3 separate regions of the Homo sapiens genome follow, and all the other regions are linked to region 3. The links come from fine-mapping of genetic effects on plasma protein levels. A gene starts in region 3. Each other region holds a variant in brackets. All regions are shown on one strand. Distances are between the middles of the regions. Region 1 overlaps INCR1 (interferon stimulated noncoding RNA 1). Region 2 overlaps CD274 (CD274 molecule). Region 3 holds the start of CD274 (CD274 molecule).

Evidence for each region. A credible set is the group of variants that fine-mapping cannot tell apart. PIP is the chance, under the fine-mapping model, that this variant and not a neighbour inherited with it causes the effect. The UK Biobank Pharma Proteomics Project read protein levels with antibody pairs (Olink). The fine-mapping took linkage between variants from a reference panel, not from the people measured, so its PIPs are less certain.
Region 1: its variant is the best candidate, but not a certain one, in a credible set for the plasma level of the CD274 protein (UK Biobank, PIP 0.56).
Region 2: its variant is the best candidate, but not a certain one, in a credible set for the plasma level of the CD274 protein (UK Biobank, PIP 0.83).

The regions. Positions count from the first base shown.
Region 1 is chr9:5,496,637-5,503,352 of GRCh38, reverse strand. All of the region lies in intron 2 of INCR1 (interferon stimulated noncoding RNA 1), which reads left to right. Among named protein-coding and RNA genes, the nearest start is that of PDCD1LG2, 11 kb to the left of the region's middle. RefSeq lists an enhancer at 965-1,466 and a silencer at 3,950-4,244. The variant G/C (reference allele first, on the strand shown) is at 3,224.
Region 2 is chr9:5,463,323-5,469,885 of GRCh38, reverse strand. It overlaps CD274 (CD274 molecule), which reads right to left. Exons shown (of 7, transcript NM_014143.4): 5 at 4,280-4,387; 6 at 3,057-3,116; 7 at 1-2,046. The coding sequence ends at 2,024. The region is part of intron 2 of INCR1 (interferon stimulated noncoding RNA 1); the gene reads left to right. Among named protein-coding and RNA genes, the nearest start is that of CD274, 16 kb to the right of the region's middle. The variant CTG/G (reference allele first, on the strand shown) is at 5,987.
Region 3 is chr9:5,448,661-5,455,054 of GRCh38, reverse strand. CD274 (CD274 molecule) reads right to left here and starts at 4,513. Exons shown (of 7, transcript NM_014143.4): 1 at 4,459-4,513. RefSeq lists enhancers at 4,237-4,396, 4,687-4,736.

The DNA of each region.
Region 1 (6,716 bases), 48 kb before region 3:
GTGATTCTTAGCTTCCTTAAATTGGGTTTCAGTGTTCTCCTGAATTGCGATGATCTTTGTTCTTATCAATATTCTGAATTCTACTTCTGTCATTTCAGCTATCTCAGCCTGGTTAAGAACCATTATTGGAGAACTAGTGTGATTGTTTGGAGGAAAGAAGACCATCTGGCTTTTTAGTTGTTAGAGTTCTTATCTTGGTTCTTTCTCATCTTTGTAGAATGATGTTCCTTCAATCTTTGATGTTGCTGTTTTTGTTTTTTTTTCCCCCTTTTTATATCATATTTAATGACCTTCGGGGTTTGATTGTGGTATAAGGTGGGTTCAGTAGACTGGCTTCATTTCTGGAAGATTTTAGGGGCCCAAGTCTCAGCTCAGGACTCCCAAACTGTGTGTTATAACTCTGGGGCACTGGTATCAGGCCCCGGTCTTGTTCTCTGGCTCCTTAAGGTTAGGAACCTGCTATGTTGGAGGGGCCTGAGGTGCTCCTGGACCTCTGATCACAACTCTCTGAGGCATGGTGCCAGCCAAAGTGCTTTGTAGGGCTGTGGAAACATGATCCATCCTCAGTCGCATGTGCCAGTCGCAGTGGCAGCAGCGGTGCAGTGGGGTGCACACTTGTTGGCTGCAGCAAGGTGCTAGTGGATGCCGGAGTGCCAGCCTTCGTGCAGGTGTTCATAGAAGCAGCAGTGGCAGCATGGCTCAGGCAGGTTGGGGGGCCCTCACCAGCAACTGTACACATGTTTGTGCCAGTGTTGGGATTAGCATGGGAGCAGGATGCTGCTAGATGCAGGGCTGTGTGTGCCCCCTGTGCACATTCACATGGGAGGCATTGGCCGCTCAGGGCAGGGGTGGGCCTGCTGGTTTTTGTGCCTAGTTTTGTGCCATAGGCAGTGTTCGCATAGGGGCAGGGCTGGGGACTGGCTGGGGCGGAGCTGGCAGCTCCATGCCCAACAACACTCTGATGACAATGCCATTGCCATCACAGTGGACAGTGCTGCAGGGAAAGGAGGGGCAGGATATACTCACACCAGCAGCAGTGGCATGGCAGGGCACACGCTCACACGTATGCTGGTGGGGAAGGGAAGGTGAGGTCTGCCTGTACACGCAGGTACTGGCAAAGTGATATGAAGGGTGGCTGTGGGCAAGTGTGTGCAAGCAAAGCAACAAGGGGGAGGCTGTAGTTAGGGGATGAGCTGGGTGGGCTGGTGTGTGTCCATGGGGGCTACTCTGCTGCAGCACTCTGACAGTCTGGCATGGTCTGCCAGCACAGGTGCTATGATGTGGGCTCCCAGGAGGTACCTGGTGGCTGCACTGCAAGCAGGCATGGACAGGCTGGGGCCCTGGGAAAGGCTAGCAGACCAAAGGGTGCTGAAGTCAGACTGGCCCTATCTCATGGGCAACACCGCCCTGCAGAATTTAGGACCGACAGCTCCCCTGGTGCTAAAGTCTCCTATGGAAGCAAGTTGAGCCTAGGGAGATGGACATCGCTGGCTGTACTCCACCACAAACACTCCCGCACGAAACCTACTGGGCTCCACATCACCTGGAGCTCTGCCCCTACCACTTCTCTAAGCAGCTCTCCTTGCCAACTCAAGTGTCCACAGTGGTTGAGGGGTCTCTTCCTGTCGTGATTCCAGAGACCCATTGCAAGAGCATGTTTCTCCTTGCCTGTTCAACTCATCCCTTCTGCAGGAGTTGTTGGGGGCCAGGAACAAGTCCCAGTGTGTGGTAGCCTCATGCAGGGTTTTCAGCTTCCTCCTGCTTCAGCCCAGCCTCTGTGTCTTCCCTCTGTCCACTCTTGATGCCTTCCCTCTGAAAATCTGGGAAGATCTCTGTGAGAGGTGTTTCTCCTGGCTGCATCTAGTTAGCTCTCTTGCCTCCTTCTCCTGCAGTTAATTTTTATTTTCTTTCTTTGGCTTCATTTTGTTTTTTAAATAGTCTGCCATGAGCACAAATTACTTTTGTAAAGACAGAAATAATTTTTTAAAAGCAATAATGGAGAGTATAGTTAGATTACTGAAAAATAACAAGAAGAAAACATTTAAAGAAATCAACAAAGGGCTGTATGTGTTTCTAATTTATTTTTATTTATTTATTTATTTGAGACAGGGTCTGACTCTGTCACTCAGGCTGGAGTGCAGTGGCATAATCAGGGCTGCCTGCAACTTCAACCTGCGGGGCTCAAGCGATCCTACCACTTCAGCCTCTCAAGTAGCTGGAACCACAGCCATGCGCCACCACACCCAGCTAATTTTCGTATTTTTTTGCAGAGATGGCATTTTGCCATATTGCCCAGGCTGATCCCTGTTAGGTTTTGAAGGGAAGGCGAGGGTTAAAGAAATATGCACACTGTAGAAGTCGGGGACCAGCCTAACGCCAGTGCCTACCGCTGCTTACAGGCTGGGGTAATTTATAGGTATGGGCGGGAGGGGTCTGGGCAGTATGGCTTGCTGCCCGGTAGGATATTGATAAGATGTTCCCGTCATGAGGCAGTTCTGGTCCTTGTTCAGGCGGGATGTCATCGTGGTGTTCCTTGGACCTTTGCCCAGAAGGATATGATAGAGATATTTCTTTAGTTGGGCCTTTGTGGGCCTTGTGGTCAAGTGGTTAGGCAGGGTGTTTCTCATGGCCCAAAAACCCATGAAATGTGTCACTTTTACCAAGGTCTGCAAAATAGCAGGGCGCTTACAAAATGGTGCAGTTTGGATTAACATTCTTGTCTTGGGGCACATGTGTATATGTCCAAGAAGAATGCTGTTTTTATGTTAATGAAGCCGGCATTGTTCGCAACGCAGCCCACAGGCTCCATTACACGGCTGCAGAAATCCAACATCAAGTCATTCACTGTTGGCAGGGGTCATCCTTCCTAAAGTGGATACCTTGGGTAACCCCTGTCTTAGGGTCCCTAATTTTCTCCCTCATAATACTGACAATTGGCCCATGTGTGCGCACCTTCATATCCCGCTTTATCTCCCAAAGGCCGAACTCCCTTGTCCAGGCAGCTATATAGAAACACGATACCATTCTTCTCTGCCAAGTTTGGTATCAGCACTTCCAGGAAAACAACTCTAAAGTCGGACACCCACTGCTGAAAACCCAAAGCCTGAGTGCAGTGCTCCTATTTAGCAGGAAACAGCCAGATAATTAACAATGCCCCTCTTCCTTTTTATGCTAAACTAGAAGGCAAAGACCTTCTGGGCAAAGGTCCAAGGAACACCATGAT[G/C]ACATCCTGCCTGAACAAGGACCAGAACTGCCTCATCATGGGACCATCTTATCAATTTCCTGCCAGGCAGCAAGCCATACTGCCCAGACCCCTCCTGCCCATACCTATAAATTGCCCCAGCCTATAAGCAGCAGCAGGTACTGGCATTAGACTGGTCTCTGACTTCTGTAGGTTTTATGCTGGATATAAAGTCTGCATTTGTTGTTGAACTTCCCTCTTATGTGTGTGTGTCTTTCTTTAAGTCTCGCCTTCCCTTCAAAACCTAACAGTCTTGTACTCCTGAGCTCAAGTGATCCATCCACCTCAGCCTCCCAAATTGTTGGGATTACGGGTGTCAGCCACCATGCCTGGCTGGCAATTTATTTAATTTAGCTTTGTTCTCTTTTTAATAGAAGATTCCTGAGAGGCATAGCTAAATTGTGTGTGTGTGTCTGTGTGTAGAATTAGGCACCCCCTTCAACATTGCATTGTCACTTGGAAATAGAAAATTAGAATTTTGGTCATAAACTATTAGACTATAATAAGAATATAATGAGTTTAATAATTATGTCACCAGCCAATCTATGAGGCCCCTCCTATCTTATAGAAGGGAAAGTTAATACAAAGAGAGATTACAGAGCTTAACCAAGATCACCCTGTGAATGTAGGGCAGAGTAGGTAAGAAATGCTACAACCATTTCTGTCCTTTCCTCCCAAGATATTTTCCTCCAAATGCAGTGTAATGCAAATGTAGTTCAATGTAATATAATATGATGCAATACAATGTATGTGATGTGATGCGATGTAATGTAATATATTGTAATATGACATGATGTAAATATTCATGTAAATCACCTAGAACAGTGCTTGTCATACAGCAGGTGCTAAATCAATGTTAATGCTTTCAGGTCCAAAAAAATAAGTCCAGTATTTCCCACTCTGCTTGGTTTTATAAGGGAAAAAAATACAGCTTGAGGATGAGAAAGAAATGCACTTGAATTTTGGGAAAACAGGCAAAGAGCAAGAGCTAAGGAAGGTGTGAGAAATGAGGAGGCAGCAGTTTATCTAGAACCTGCTTTAGCAACGTTTCCAAAGTCAGGAAGCAGGGATCTGCTGTGAGTTTATCTGGAATGTGAAGGAAGCAGGTGAAGACCAGCTTAATCTCTTGAAAATGGGGAGAGGGGGCCGGGCACGGTGGCTCACGCCTGAAATCCCAGCAATTTGGGAGGCCGAGGCAGGCAGATCACCTGAGGTCAGGAGTTCGAGATCAGCCTGGCCAACATGATGAAACCCCATCCCTACTAAAAAATACAAAACTTAGCCAGGCATGGTGGCAGGTACCTGTAATCCCAGCTACTTGGGAGGCTGAGGCAGGAGAATTGCTTGAACCCAGGAGGCGGAGGTTGCAGTGAGCTGAGATCGTGCCACTGCACTCCAGCCTGGGCAACAGAGCAAGACTCTGTCTCAAATGAAAAAGAAAATGGGGACAAGGAATTTCTGGGGTGGGGCAGGCAGGTCATGAGCAGCTGGGGGAAGAGAGGAGGAGGAGGGAGACCACATGGGGGCCAGCCCGAAAATTGGCCTCCCTTGTGTCATGGTCAGCCAGGGGCTGGAGGTGAGTCACTGGTCATCATCCTCAAAGTCCACACTTGGCTTGCAGTCCCACCTGGTCTCTATGTGCTAAGAAAGGCCTGGTCTCAAAGTAAGAGAAGGAAAGGTGTGAATTGAAGTTCTGGCCGGAGCAACTGAAATACTTGTTTGTTCTTAGAAGGAGAGAGGTCTAGGTTTGGCTCATTCACAGAAAAGAACTTTTCAAAATAAAAAGAGATTTATTATAAGTGTAACAGATTGATGTGGGGCACTGATTAAGTATTTTTTTCTGCCCCATGTTACTGAATAGTGAAGAAATAACTGGGTAGATGGCTTCTTGTTGAGGAAAAGTTACTGAACTCACAAAGGTCAAATTTAAGTAAGGCCTCTATAGCACTGTAGGGTGACTACAGTTAACAACAATGTATTCTATATTTTCAAATAGCTAGAAGAGAGGATTTTGAGTGTTTCCAACACAAAGAAATAAAAGTTTCAGATGATGGATATGCTAATTACTATGATTTAATTATAATACATCTTAGACATGTGTCGAAATAGCACACTCTACTCCATAAATCTATATAATTATTTATGTGTCAATTAAAAAAATAATTAAAAAGCCAGGAGTGGTGGCACACACCTATAGTCCCAGCTACTTGAAAGGCTGAGGAGGGAGGATCATTTTAGTCCAGGAGTTTGAGGTTGCAGTGAACTATGATTCCACCACTGCACTCCAGCCAGGGTGACAGAGCAAGACTCTGTCTTTAAAAATAATAAAAATAAATTTTTCAAAAAGAAATATCGTTTTGTTAATATGGTAAAAAAAATAAAGTCAGGCCTAATTCCTTCAATGAGTCTTTCAAGTGCAGGGTTGGGGGCAGGAAATGAGAGGAGAGAAGAGAGGAGGAGGAGAGAAATTAAACTGGCCCACTGGCCTTGAACAAAGACAAGTAAGAAGGAGACTAAGAGACAGGGAGAAGGTTCCGAGAGCCTAGAGTGGATGTATATTATCTGAGTCTCCTCTCATTCTTGGGGAGAGAAAAGGGGTGCTAAACGCATATCTCCAAAGTTTGAGAGTGCCTTGTATAGAGATTAATACCTGCTTCTTGCCTGAAGTTTCTGAAAATGGGAGGTTCACTGGGTGTCCCACACCCGGGGAGTGAAAAGGGCTGTAGACTTATTTTCAGGAATGAAGAAAATGGGGATATCATTCACATCCCAGGCTCCTGAGTCCTCAAGGATGACCAAAAACCCCAACAGTTACTATGGCTTCGTGTGATGCAGAAGAGAAGGAAGCCAAAGGCATGGGAGGCCCCAGCCATTATCACAGGCCACTACCCTTAGACTGCAACCGCCTGAGACCTGAGCCATTTCTCTGCCCAACTTGAAGATTGCAGGGTCATAAGTTTCACCTATTCTGGGAGGAGAGATATTTGTAAAATATCTCATATTTGTAAAATATGGGATTGGAATTTTAAATGAGATGAACTCTGTCACTTCCTCAAAATGTTAAACATAGCGACCCAGTGTTCTACTCCTAGGTATATTTCAAAAGAAATGAAATGTACACACAAAAATGTCTGCATGAATGTTCATAGAAGCATTATTCTTAGTATCAAAAAATTGGAAACAAACCAGATGTCCAGAGACTGATGAATGAGACAATAAAAAACAGTATGTCCATACAATGGAATATATCTCAGCTTTAGAAATGAATGCAGTCCTGATACGTGATACAGTGTGTGTGAACCTTGAAAACATTATGCTATGTGAAAGAAGCCTGTCACAAAAGATTGTATATATTGTATGATTCCATTTAGACGAAATGTCCAGAATAGGCAAATCCATAGAGACAGGAAATAATTACTTAAGACTGGGAGGAATGAGGGGAACTAGGGGGTGACTGCTAGAGGGATGGGATTTC
Region 2 (6,563 bases), 15 kb before region 3:
AGAAAGCAGAAAACAAAAGTTCCAGACATGATTCTGTCATACAGAGTTAATAATAAGATTGCTTTTTAGGACTAGATTGACTCAGTGCACCCTGGAGAGCCCATGGGTCTCCTTTTGAGCAAACATAAACAAATCCAAACTCTGTCCTAGAGCAAATACTTAACAAATGGTGGTTGTCTAAATGTATATGTAGGACATATTTAACATATACTGGATCATATGAAAGATAATGAAAAGCTATGGGAAAGATAACTTAGAAACAAAGAAGGCATGGATCCTCAGCCCTGGGAACTTCAAATTCATTCCATCTGCTATATAAGAAACACTAAAATAAATAAAAATAGCAAAGTACACAGCAGACATACAATGTGTTACTATTTAGGAAAAAAATTTTAAAAATACGTGCTTTTAACATACATTTCCAAATGTAGACTATCTTTAGAAGAACATATGAATGAAAGGCAGTAGCAGTTGCTTCTGGAAAGGAAACTTGAATGGCTTGGAGGATGAAGTGGAGATTTTCCAACCATCTCCCATGGGATCTTTTGAATTTTGAATCATGGAAAGGTATGAATTTAAAATTTAGTGGCATTTAAATAGAAAAGACAGAACTGTTAAACAATACCAGACACTATATAAACAAGCATTAGATTATATGGCAAAGGCAAATCAGGAATAAATATAATGCTAGAAAAGGAATTCCAGTGTTATTTTTCAGGGTTATTTTAAGTACCGACCTCTCTTTGTAAATGAAAATTACTCTGATTATTAAGATGTTTAAGTATATCCAACCGTCCCAGACCACATTGGCCTATTTCCTCCTCTTGGCAACACTGCTCGGGTTTTCCCCTCGCATCATCCTTATGCTATGACACTGGACTAAATTGTAATAATACATTTTCTTGTTAATCTCCTCATTATACTATGAGCTCCTTGAGGACAGGTACTTTGTCTTGCTCACATCTGTAGATTCAATGCCTGGCACAGCGATTGATATTGCAAGGGCACTTAATAAATGGTTTTTGAATAAAAGAATTGCTTAAAGTAAAATATAGCTGTAAATTGTATTATAAAAGGACAGTGGGTGGCAGTCTGAGGTCTGCTATTTACTGGTTTGGGCAAGTTACTTAATCTGTTTGCTTCCTCAGCTGTACGATGGGTAAAATAATAGTGGTTATCACAACAGGGTGGTTACAGCGATGAAATGAGATTATGTGTGTAGGCTACCACATAATTGTAAAGCTGATATTTAAATGGAACAGATACTGCACAGACACTTGAGGTCTGAGAATAAGATTAGGTCAACCAGAGTATTAATGGGTTAAATAAAGGTGACATCCTATGCAACCAACGGTTTGATCTTTATGCTTCCAATGTATACTTGTAGTTATAGAGGAGACCAAGCACCTTACAAATACTCCATGTTTTACTAGATGTGAGCAAATCATTAAGCAGCAAGTTTAGTTTGGCGACAAAATTGTAACATCTACTACAATATATCTTCAAAAGAAATCATTCACAACCACACTCACATGACAAGAAGACCTCACAGACTCAAAATAAATAGGAAAAACTCATACATAAATACTGTCCCGTTCCAACACTGAGACTCTCAGTCATGCAGAAAACAAATTGAGGCATTGAGTGGAGGCAAAGGGCACTTCTGCAGGAACTGACCCTCAAATTAGGGATTCTCAACCCGTCTTCCTAGGATGAGCAATGGATGATTTGCTTGGAGGCTCCTTGTTCAGAAGTATCCTTTCTCCCTGTCACAGGCGTCGATGAGCCCCTCAGGCATTTGAAAGTATCAAGGTCTCCCTCCAGGCTCCCTGTTTGACTCCATCTTTCTTCATTCTCCTCCTCTGCTTTCGCCAGGTTCCATTTTCAGTGCTTGGGCCTTTTAAGTCCCACATTGCCTGCATCCCACGGGCCCATTCCTTCCTCTTGTCACGCTCAGCCCCGATGAACCCCTAAACCACAGGTTGAGAATCCCTGCTTGAAGATCAGAAGTTCCAATGCTGGATTACGTCTCCTCCAAATGTGTATCTGGAGAGTGATAATAGTATATTAATTTCATGGGAAGTGGTCTGGGGAAAAAGTAACAAGAAATCTAATAAAAAACATAACTCATAGTTGCTGATATGATAAATGATAAATTTGAAATGAGAGAAAGCAGCAGGTTATATTTGTACCCAATTATCCTTACATGATATCCTGGAAAACCCCTCAGTCCTGAGCAAATTGGGATGGCTTGTCCCCCAGCATGACCCAAACAACATTTGCTACTTAGCTTTACAACACAGATGATGCTATGGGCCACAGAATGAAACTTGCCTGAGCTTGTCCAGGTTAATTAGACTGCTTTAAACTTGGGCTCATTGTTAAGTTTGGTTTCTAACTACATTAAAAAAATTAGAAACCTTAATATAACTTTCTTCTTAGTTCAATAACCTGGATGAGGTTTTTCTGCCCTGCTTATAAATGTAAACATTTGTAGCAAAATGGATTGAAGCAGATGGGTTAAGAGTAAGGGTCTGTGGTTAGGCTAATGGCCCCCAAGCTTGATTTTTGTGATCAGCTGTGTGTTCTTGGGCACTTTACATTATCTTCTTGACCCTCTGTTTTCTCTACTGTAAAATGAGGATAAATTCTAGTATTTCTCTCTCTCTCTCTCTCTCTCTCTTTGGTAATGGCAAGGGGTGGGGGATTAAATGAGATACCGTGCATGGTGCAATTAACATAGTATTACAATACTGACACACAATATTTTAGAATCAATTAATTATCCATCCACCTAAGTCATCCTTGTCCCCTGCTGCAAGGAGCTGCTAGGGTGCAGGGCAACAGAAGATTAGCAAATGAAGCTGACTCCTTCCCCTTCCCTGCTCCTAAACCTCCTCAGACGGTGGAGGAGTTCTTGTGTTAGCTGTGAGGCAAAGGGGAACCAGCATTCTTTAAAAGGAGAGGAGATTATGACTGATGGATTTCTCTTTGTTATTGCTTTAGCTTTTTGTTTCCTTTGACTTTTACTTCCCAATTCCTTCTGATATTCTTACCACTTTGCTTCTTTGAGTTTGTATCTTGGATGCCACATTTTTTCACATCCATCATTCTCCCTTGAGAAAAAGAAATCATTTTTATTTCCATATAGCACAGCTCTACATCCCATACAGTGACCCAAGTTTAAATTTCAAGTTCTGTGAAACATTTGTAATCCCTAGGAAGTCTGGTGGACATCCTTATTCCACAGGTCCCAACTTATGAGGTTAATTAATTCAATAGTGTAGGGCACATGCTTTTGATCCTAGATGTTCTTGAGGAGTATACACTTTTATTTTTCATCTTTTCCCAGAGATGAACCAAATTCTGAGGTATTTTAATATCTATTGATTTCTATCCATTTCTACTGCCAACTAATCTTTTTTTCCAGAGAAATATTCAAAATGCATGCTGGCAACAATTATTTCTTTGTGCAAATCAACTCCATCTCAGGATCTTACTGTCATTGAAACTTGATCCTTATATTCTGGCTATCTCAGTCCTGTTAAGAATATAATTTTTGGAAACAGCTTATCTCTACTCTCTCAGTTAACACTACTTTCCCCCATGTAAGGGGTTATGGGGAATTTTTCAACGACTATTGGAATCCCCTTCCATATTCTACTTCCCTATTTAACATCAGACAACTCTATACCATCACTGGATCTCTTGGTATACTTCTCTAAGTATTGGAGGAATTATTTACTCTGACTCATCTTAAATGGGAGGAAATTATTTGAATATACTCATTTTCCTGGATTTTAATTGTTCCCACAGGTAAATGGAGAAATGAACACATGCAAATTATGTAACATCCTCTACCAAAAATTTTGCAAAATACTCTATGGTAAACATACTACAGTTCTACAGAGGAACTATTTTTATTACTTAGGGTACCCAGAAACCAGCTGGTTGCAACTAATGCAAGACTAAAATGCAACTGAAAATGACGGGCATTTTAGCTCTTTCTCTTCTGTAAGTCTGTGGTTATTTTCATGATAGAAAAAAACTGTATGACACTGCATCTTCTACCTCCATCCATACCCATTCTCCTGCCCCTCACCCCTTACGCTTCATCTTCACCCAGTGATCCCACTCAGCTTCAATATAATTGCTGTTGAACAGTGGAATGCCTTTGCACCACCTTGCAGAGGTTAAGTCGGGTTTCCTTGCAGCCATGATCCAATTCTCACCCCTTCCTCACCCCCAGTGGAGACCACTGCAATTAAGGAAATACTACCTTTTCTTAAACGGAAGATGAATGTCAGTGCTACACCAAGGCATAATAAGATGGCTCCCAGAATTACCAAGTGAGTCCTTTCATTTGGAGGATGTGCCAGAGGTAGTTCTGAAAAACAAAACAAAACGAAAACAAACTGACTAAAGATAAAATTTTGATGGGAAGGGGTCAGGAGAATGGTCATCCTTGAAGTTTAGTTTAGCTTTAGGATAATTTTCTTAAATGCCAAAGTTTGAGTGGCTGGAATGGCGAGATACCTGTGTTAAAATGGGAACAGCATGGAGAAGTGTGAGAAGCCCAGGCTTTGAAAAGGTGGTGCTGGGGCTAAATTCTGCTGCCCTTAACCAGTTTTGAGGTCTTGGGCAAGATACTTAACCAGTGTACAAAATACAAATGCTAATACATTTCTTGTGAGGCTAATATTTATAATGTGCTTGCACAGTACCACATGGAGTGGCTGCTCACTATTAAATGGCGGCCTTGATTATTTCACTTCCTCTTGCTTTTTTTTTTTTTTTTTGAGGCAGAGTCTTTCTCTGTTGCCCAGGGTGGAGTGCAGTGGCGCAATCTGGGCTCACTGCAACTTCCGCCTCCCAGGTTCAAGCAATTCTTGTGCCTCAGTCTCCCGAGTAGCTGGGATTACAGGTGCACACCACCACACCCAGCTAATTTTTATATTTTTAGTAAAGGCAGAGTTTCACCATGTTGGCCAGGCTGGTCACAAACTCCTGACCTCAAGTGATCTGCCCACCTTGGCCTCCCAAAGTGCTGAGATTACAGGCATGAGCCTCCGCTCCTGGCCCCTCTTGCATTCTTTAATATAGAAGCTAGTAGCCTACAGTACATGGCAGAGATGGCCCACAGTAGAACATGGAAGGCCAACCAGCACTGCTAAGGAGCTCCCACCTCCTCCTATCTGTCATCATGATTGGAGGCCAATGCTTGTTGTCTTATCTTTCTCTGCAGTTTGAACATCTCTGGACAACAAGCCATTAGTATCTCTTACTAGGCTCCTTGTCTGGGGTACCATGCAGGAGGAAAGGGGGTCCCATGGTACACAGATGTTCAGAGGCTGCTAACTCCCACCTCTCACCCTTAGTCAGCTCCTGCCTGGCTCAGCTCTCCACTGAGACCCATGATCCATCTTTGACTACCCAGGTGAAACTTTAAAGACACAACAACAGCCAGCTTTTTCCGTAACTTACAGTTTACAATGCCTGTTCACGTATGTTTTATTTCAGTTTCAGAACAACTTTATGAGTTAGGCATGCCAGGTATTTAAAAAAAAATCCCCAATTTACAGATGAGGAAACAGACTCAGTGCAGTTAGGTGAGTTACTGTAGGCCACCCAACAAGTAAGTTGTCATAAAACAGCTTGTAAATGGCAGGAACCCACTAATCTAGCTTTTACTGAAAGCCAGTTCAATACCTGAGGACTCGTACCCCAGTAAGAGCATCCCCATCATTTTCTAAAGTTTTTTCCCCCTCTTTCTGTTCACAACACCGTCCTGGATTATCTTTTCCTATTGATTGACTTTTCTATCTAATTTTTCAGTTGTTTTTGCTGAAGTACGTGGCATTTTCCTATCAACATGTATTGGGGGAGGGGGCAGTGAGCAGCTCTTCTCAGAATATCTTTGTGTTTATATTAAATATCATGCTCACTCGCCTCACTTTCTTTCACATTCTGAGCCTCTCATCAGACT[CTG/G]TCTCCCACCCTACCTACTTCTGTAGAGTAGTGAGATAAAAAAAAATAGTTGAATTTGTGCAGGCAATGGTCTCAAATCATTTTCATACACTGTTGCTAATCTGACCCTTACAATAAGCTTGCTCAGTAGATTATAATCCTACAGGGAAAGTGAAGCACACAGAAGTCTAGTAATTTGCCCAGGGACACACAGCCTCATGTTCTATGCACTAAGCAGACTGCTAGAGTTGAAATATTGTAGACTACCTTGGGAGAGGCACCGGGGAGAAAGGGTCCCTCATGTTTGGCATAAGATAGAAAAATATGTTCCATTTATTTCCTGCCACCCTGGAAAGAGGGAAGCAGCTCTGATGTGCCAGGATTTGGATTCCTGAAACAAGGCCTGAATTGAGTATTCCTCTCAGGTATTCCCCAGGTTTCCCGGCTATGAAAGCATTTCCCACATGGTGTTGGATTGCCTGTTTTTTGTTTGTTTCTTAGTTTTTTATCTGTTTCCTGAAGAGTGTGAACTGAGTCTTATTATTCTATGTGTATCCAATGAGTACTACAATGCATGGAACAAAAGGTATATTCCA
Region 3 (6,394 bases):
GACAGGAGATTAATGTTCCTAATATATAAATAGCTCCTAACAATCAATAAGACAACTATACAAACTACACATAACCCATGAGGAAAAAAAGTGAAAGGTCATAACATATAGTTCAGAGAATAAGAAATACAGGTGACATGTAAACATATGAAAGATGTTCAATCTCACAATAAAAAATATAAGATATGAAATACCATTTTCACTTATGAGCTTGACCACAATTGTAAATATTTCTAATATTTAGTGTTTGTGAAGATATGAACAAATAGGCTTTCTTACCCACTAATGGGAGGATTTTTTTCTTTAGGGGGCACTTTGATACTTCCTATTACAATCGTAAATGCGGATGTCATAAGACCTTTCACCCTCTCCTAGAAATCTATCCTACTAAAACAAAAACACACACACACACATATATATATATATGTCTGTATATGTAAAGGAAGAGCATTGCTCATAACAGCAAACTGAGAATATCCTAGATTGTCTAAGTGGTTAAACAAATTTTGGTATATTCACAAAATATAATACCATTAAGGACTGAATTCAGCATATGTACATGTACTGATTTTGTAAACACATAGAAAGTAAGTTGCAGAACACTACATGTAGCAGAAATCCACTTTTGCTGAAAAAAAAAAGTGTGTGTGTGTGTTTAGACACAGGAAATGTCCAAGATATTGACAGTGATTATATTTAGGAATTAAATTAGAGGGAGAACAGGTAGGTTTCACTCTTTATTGTTTTTAAAGGGAAAAAAGGAAGGAAAAGACAGAAAAAGAGAGATGAGATTATGGATTTTTTTTGGTGTTCTGTGTCCAAATTTCCAAGTGAAAGAATGTTTTATTTTTAGTATCAGGAAAAAAATAAAACCAAAATTTCATGAATCACTTCACCTTACCAAACCGTAGAATGTTTAGCAGACCAAGTGATATAATGGAAAGAACCCCAAAATGGAGTCCAAACATCCAAACTGACGTAGAATAATAACATTCGTTTATTTTTTATGTTTTTTTCTTTATTATTAAAGTAATATAATGGAATTACAGAAAATAAGAAAAGAAGGGGAAAATCCCCTACTATTTCATCACTCTCACCCAGGGAGCATCTGGTGATGCCTGGAAACATTTTTGGTTGTCAAAATTGGGCTGGTTGAGGGAGGACTGCTATTGCTATCTAGGGGCAGAGGCCAAGAGTGCTGCCAAACACCCTGCAGTGCACAGGCCAGCCTCCCACAGCAAAGACATACAGCCTAAAACGTCAACAGTGCCAGTGCTGAGAAACCTTGTCACCACTGTGAGCAAAAAACATTTCAGTGTATATCTTTCAATTTTTTTCCCTGTAATCTTTTAAAAAGTAATTTATAACCTTATCATACATTTAATACCCATTTGTTTCATTAAAGCTTATGGCATAAATATTGCCCATCTTACTGCATGGTATTCATAAGCATCTTATTTAACAGTTCCATAATATTTAATCCCTCTATTGTTAGGTATCAGATTGTTGCCAATTTTTTAAAATATCATAAGTATTTGTGTGTTCAGCAAATATTCGTTGAGTGCCTACTGTGTGCCAGGGCCCCAGGCTAGGCCCTGAGGATAGATTTTCCCAAATAGTGTTGCTGATCAAAGAAAAAGAACATTTTTCTGGTTCTCAACACATGTTGATAATTGGTACTGTTACACTGTATTTTCACCCATTGTTTAAAAAATATTATTTTTTTGCTAATTTGAAAGATCTGATCATTTTTTGGTCTGTTTATGTCACTGGTTTCTTATCAACCTGTATGAGTCCTTCATGTTAAAAGATAAAAAGGTTAAGTGAAATAACATGAGTCATCATCCTCTTGCCAGTGTTAGGTACCTATTTTTTTATTTCTTTCCTTTCCGTCTATCCTGTAGATGTGGAATAGCGATGGCATTCAGGCCTGTGAGGTCACATTTGCTAAAATGGGGCTGCAGCATCTATCAGACTATCTTTTCCTTGGGCCAGAGTTAACTGTACAGTTATAAAATATTACTTATAAAATATAAATATTACTTATAAAATATTTTATAACTGTACAGTTATAAAATATTAATGTGATATTTTATGATTATTGTATTATAAACACAAATTCACTTACTAGGCAGAAGAAAACTTAAAATACCCCTAATGCCAAGCAAAGCATTATAACCATATGGGAATAAAACAAAGGGACATTAAATCTAGTCATGGATTACAACTAATTTTGCCAATGTTTATGGCCTACTCTGGTGGAGTTCTTGTCCTTTAATGAATTTGGTTGAAATTTTTAGGAGTAATAAAGGCTTCCTGGAGGGTGATGGATTAGATCCAATATTTACTTAATTTCTTATCAAACCCTCTCTTCCACAGCTCCATTTCCTTGGGGTGCAGCTGTCATTAGTGAGGGACGAAAAGGCAGAATACAAAGATCATGTAAATACACACATGTTCTTTAACCTCTAAACCTCATATCAGGGCAGTTGGTCTAAGAGAAGAAGACTGACATCTTCTTCAGGTAAGAATTATGACCATATGTGAATTCCCATATCCGAATGGAGACATTTAAAGAGCAATGAAATGTAAACTGGGGAAGAAGTGATGGCTCATTCAGGTTGGGGAAGTGGGTTTGTCCCTGGGGGAAGCCCAGTATAACACTATGGAACTAATACTACTTCTCTATCTTCCAAGGGTAGGATGGGTAGGAGGATGAGATAGAGAAAAAGTTAAGCAGCCAGGAGCAGTGGCTCATGCCTGTAATCCCAGCACTTTGGGAGGCCGAGGCAGGCGGATCACCTGAGGTCAGGAGTTCGAGATCAGCCTGGCCAATATGGTGAAACCCCATTTCTACTAAAAATACAAAAATTAGCTGGGCGTGGTGGCAGGTGCCTGTAGTCCCAGCTACTCGGGAGGCTGAGGCAGGAGAATCACTTGAACCCGGGAGGCAGTGAGCTGAGATTGCACCACTGCACTCCAGCATGGGCAACAGAGTGAGACTCTGTCTCAAAAAAAAAAAAAAAAAGACAAAAAAAACCGGTTAAACTTCCTTTCTCAAAAGTAGGAGCAAGAGGCCTGCATGGTGGCTCCCGCCAGTAATCCCAGGACTTCTGGAGCCTGAGGAGGGAGGATCGCCTGAGGCTAGGAGTTCGAGAACAGCCTGGGCAACATAACAAGAGCCCCATCTCTACAAAAACAAAAAAAAAATTCTTAAGTAGGATCAAAGATTAAGACAGTTGATTTATTAAACCTCTACTAAGTGACCAAACTTTATTAAACTCCATGAAACCCCATGCCCAACCTCCTTCTCAGTCACACTGAGACACTCTTGTACATTTTCCACATGGGGTTTCAATTCCCCACAGTATTTCTGTGACTTCCTTGAAGACCACACTCTAACTGCTGTCATGTGGCCTCTGCCTACCTACTTTTACTGAGAAAGGCTAAGTTTTTCTTCAGAGTATCATAGTTCTCCTTAAATACTGTTGACGACTGTCATTGTCAACTGATACATCCTTTCTGGAAAGCATTTTCAGTTTTCTTCAAAAGGCCTTTAAAATATTCAGGCTCTTTGACTAAGTAGTTACACTTCTAAGTTTACTTGAAGGAAACAATCAGCAATATTCCAGAGATATATATGCAATGAGTTCAGTGAATGGCTAAGACAGAACCACTGTAAATAACCTTTATACCCAACAGTGAGGAATTAATTTCATTTAGTTACCCAATCTAATCGAATGCAGCAATGAAAACATTTTTTAGAAGGTTATTTAATTCATAGAAAAGCATCCACAGTAAATTTTTTTCAAGTATTAAAAAAAGAGGTAGAACAATGGTACTTTTACTCCTTGTGTTATAAGACAAACCCAGACTGAACTTTGACATAGGCCAAGGTCAATGTGTCTAAGAAATGTTTTATTATACTATTTTTATTCTTAGGCTCCTCCATTCCTCTTTTAGGACTCCTTTGGGTTCTCAGAATGGACAGAGCAAATAAATTCCGTTCAGGGATCCTGGACCTGCTTAGCGCAGGAAGAGACTTACTTAGATGCTGCAGCTGGGATAACTTACACAAGTCATGTTACTAGCAAGCAGCTGGCGGTGGACTTGGACCCGTGTCCAGACCTCCAGCCTAGCATCAGAGCTATATTCTGAACACACAGTCGCATAAGAATGACTACCTATCCTATACTACCTATCTTATTTATTTTTAGAGGTATAAATTATTTTTAGAGCAAAACTGAATCGCGCCTGGAGGAAGGCCAGATGCATTGCCTGTTCTTATTAACCCCAACAGGTAATTGGCTCTACTGCCCCCTAGACCATCGCGTTCCCTTTCCCTTCTCCTCTCTCCATCCCAAAGAAAGGGTGTAGAGACCCTCCGTCCTAAAGTGCCCAGCGAGCTAGCCAGAGATACTGGGCCGTGGGCACCCGCGGAGGAACAACGCTCCCTACCTGCAGGCGGACAGAAGCGCGGCTGGTGCGGAGCCTCGGGAAGCTGCGCAGAACTGGGGCCGCGCGGGACGCGCCAGCTGCTCAGCGTTGCGCCAGGCCCGGAGGCGGGGTCCCGCCCACCTCTGCCCAAGGCAGCAAATCCAGTTTGCCGGGCGTTGGACTTTCCTGACCTTCGGTGAAATCGGCGGAAGCTTTCAGTTTAGGTATCTAGTGTTGGTGTCCTAGGAATAAAGCTGTGTATAGAAATGAAACAGAAAGTGAAACATGTCAGTCCAGTTTTCTTGTAAATGAGATTTTCACCGGGAAGAGTTTCGAAGATTAAAGCAAATCCACATTTAGTATGTTATTAATAAAAAAAGAAATTTACAACAAGCCAACATCTGAACGCACCTTGATTTTACCTTCAGAGGGGTAAGAGCTTAAGGTTACCCCTTAACCTTTATCAGAAAGGCGTCCCCCTTTCTGATAAAAGCCTCTTCAAGGTGACTGAACATCTTGACATAACTTGATATAACTCTACAACATATAAAAAGTCAGCAGCAGACCCATATGGCTTTGGTTTTTATTCTAGAAAGTAGGTGTGTGTGTGTGTGTATGGGTGTATAATAGGAAATATATTTTTAAATCGTGGATTCTGTGACTTCCTCAAAGTTCCTCGACATAATGAAACTTCATTTGCTTTGTCATTAAAAGAACTTCCCATCCCGAGCTACATCTTTTAAGAATGCTCAGGGTCCCTGATATTCTGCCACCCTAAGGATTAAGGCTGCGGAAGCCTATTCTAGGTGAGGGTTAAGAAAGCCCTTTTGAAAGCTTTGGGTTAGTGAATGGGCCCAAGATGACAGACGATGGTGTCATAATTTACTTAAGTATTATCCCGCGCTGAACTTCTAGGTGCTCTCTTTTCTCGAACTCCTTGACCTCAAGTGATCCGCCAAAGTGCTGATATTACAGGCTTGAGCCACCGTGCCTGTGTGCTCCCTTTTCTTTTTTTTCTCTTTTTCTAAATTGAGAAATTGGACTCTTCGTTGTTTGCCTTTCCTTCTTATTCATTTCAACTGCAGTTCAAAATACTGCATAATGAATGAATATTGAGATAGCCCTTGCATTGGTTATGACATTTGCTTCCAAAATAAGAATTTTCACATTCTGATTGTATCACAGATTTTTATTTTTATCTGGGAAATTATTGAGGCTGACACTGCCTTGATTTGGCAGGAGCATGGAGTTCTCTTTGGCCCCAATAAAATTGCAATAGGGTTTGGGCCCAGCTCAGATGTTCCTTCTTTCAAATCACTTTTGAGGTCACATAGTAGAATAGAGCAATTTTGGTGACTGTAAGTTTGGGTGACTTCCCAAAGTTCCCGAAGTTGGGTGACTTCCCAACTTTGGTGACTGTGACCTCTAGGAAAATATAGACATTATGTGGCAATACAGTTTACAGGTACTGCATATATATAGTCTGTGTATGACACACACATGTACAACAAGTTTCATGAAAAAATACTTAGATCTACTATCTGCAATGCCCTCTGATATTTTCATTTAATGTTTTATTTTTCTAAAAATGGTCAAGACCCAGGGCATAAACTTTATGATCTGCTAGTTCATCATGACTCTTGAGGTCTGCAAAAAACAAAACAAAAAAAAACAACTGGCTTCAGAGCCATCTACCACTAACTAGCTGAGTTAACTTGGGCAAATAATTTACCAAGTAGCCAGGATTAAATCATATCCTCCTAGATGGCCTGGATGATCTATGAATAATTTTTTAAACTGGGGATGGGTATTTTGTTTTTGTTTTATGAAAGCAGTGTTCAGGGTCTACCTAAATGATCAATGAGGCAAACGGAATTTGCCTTTCTCTAAAGTTGCTGATGGGAATTGAGGGTATTTGCTCAGCTTGCTGCTCAGTGATTTGCGTATTAGTAATGTG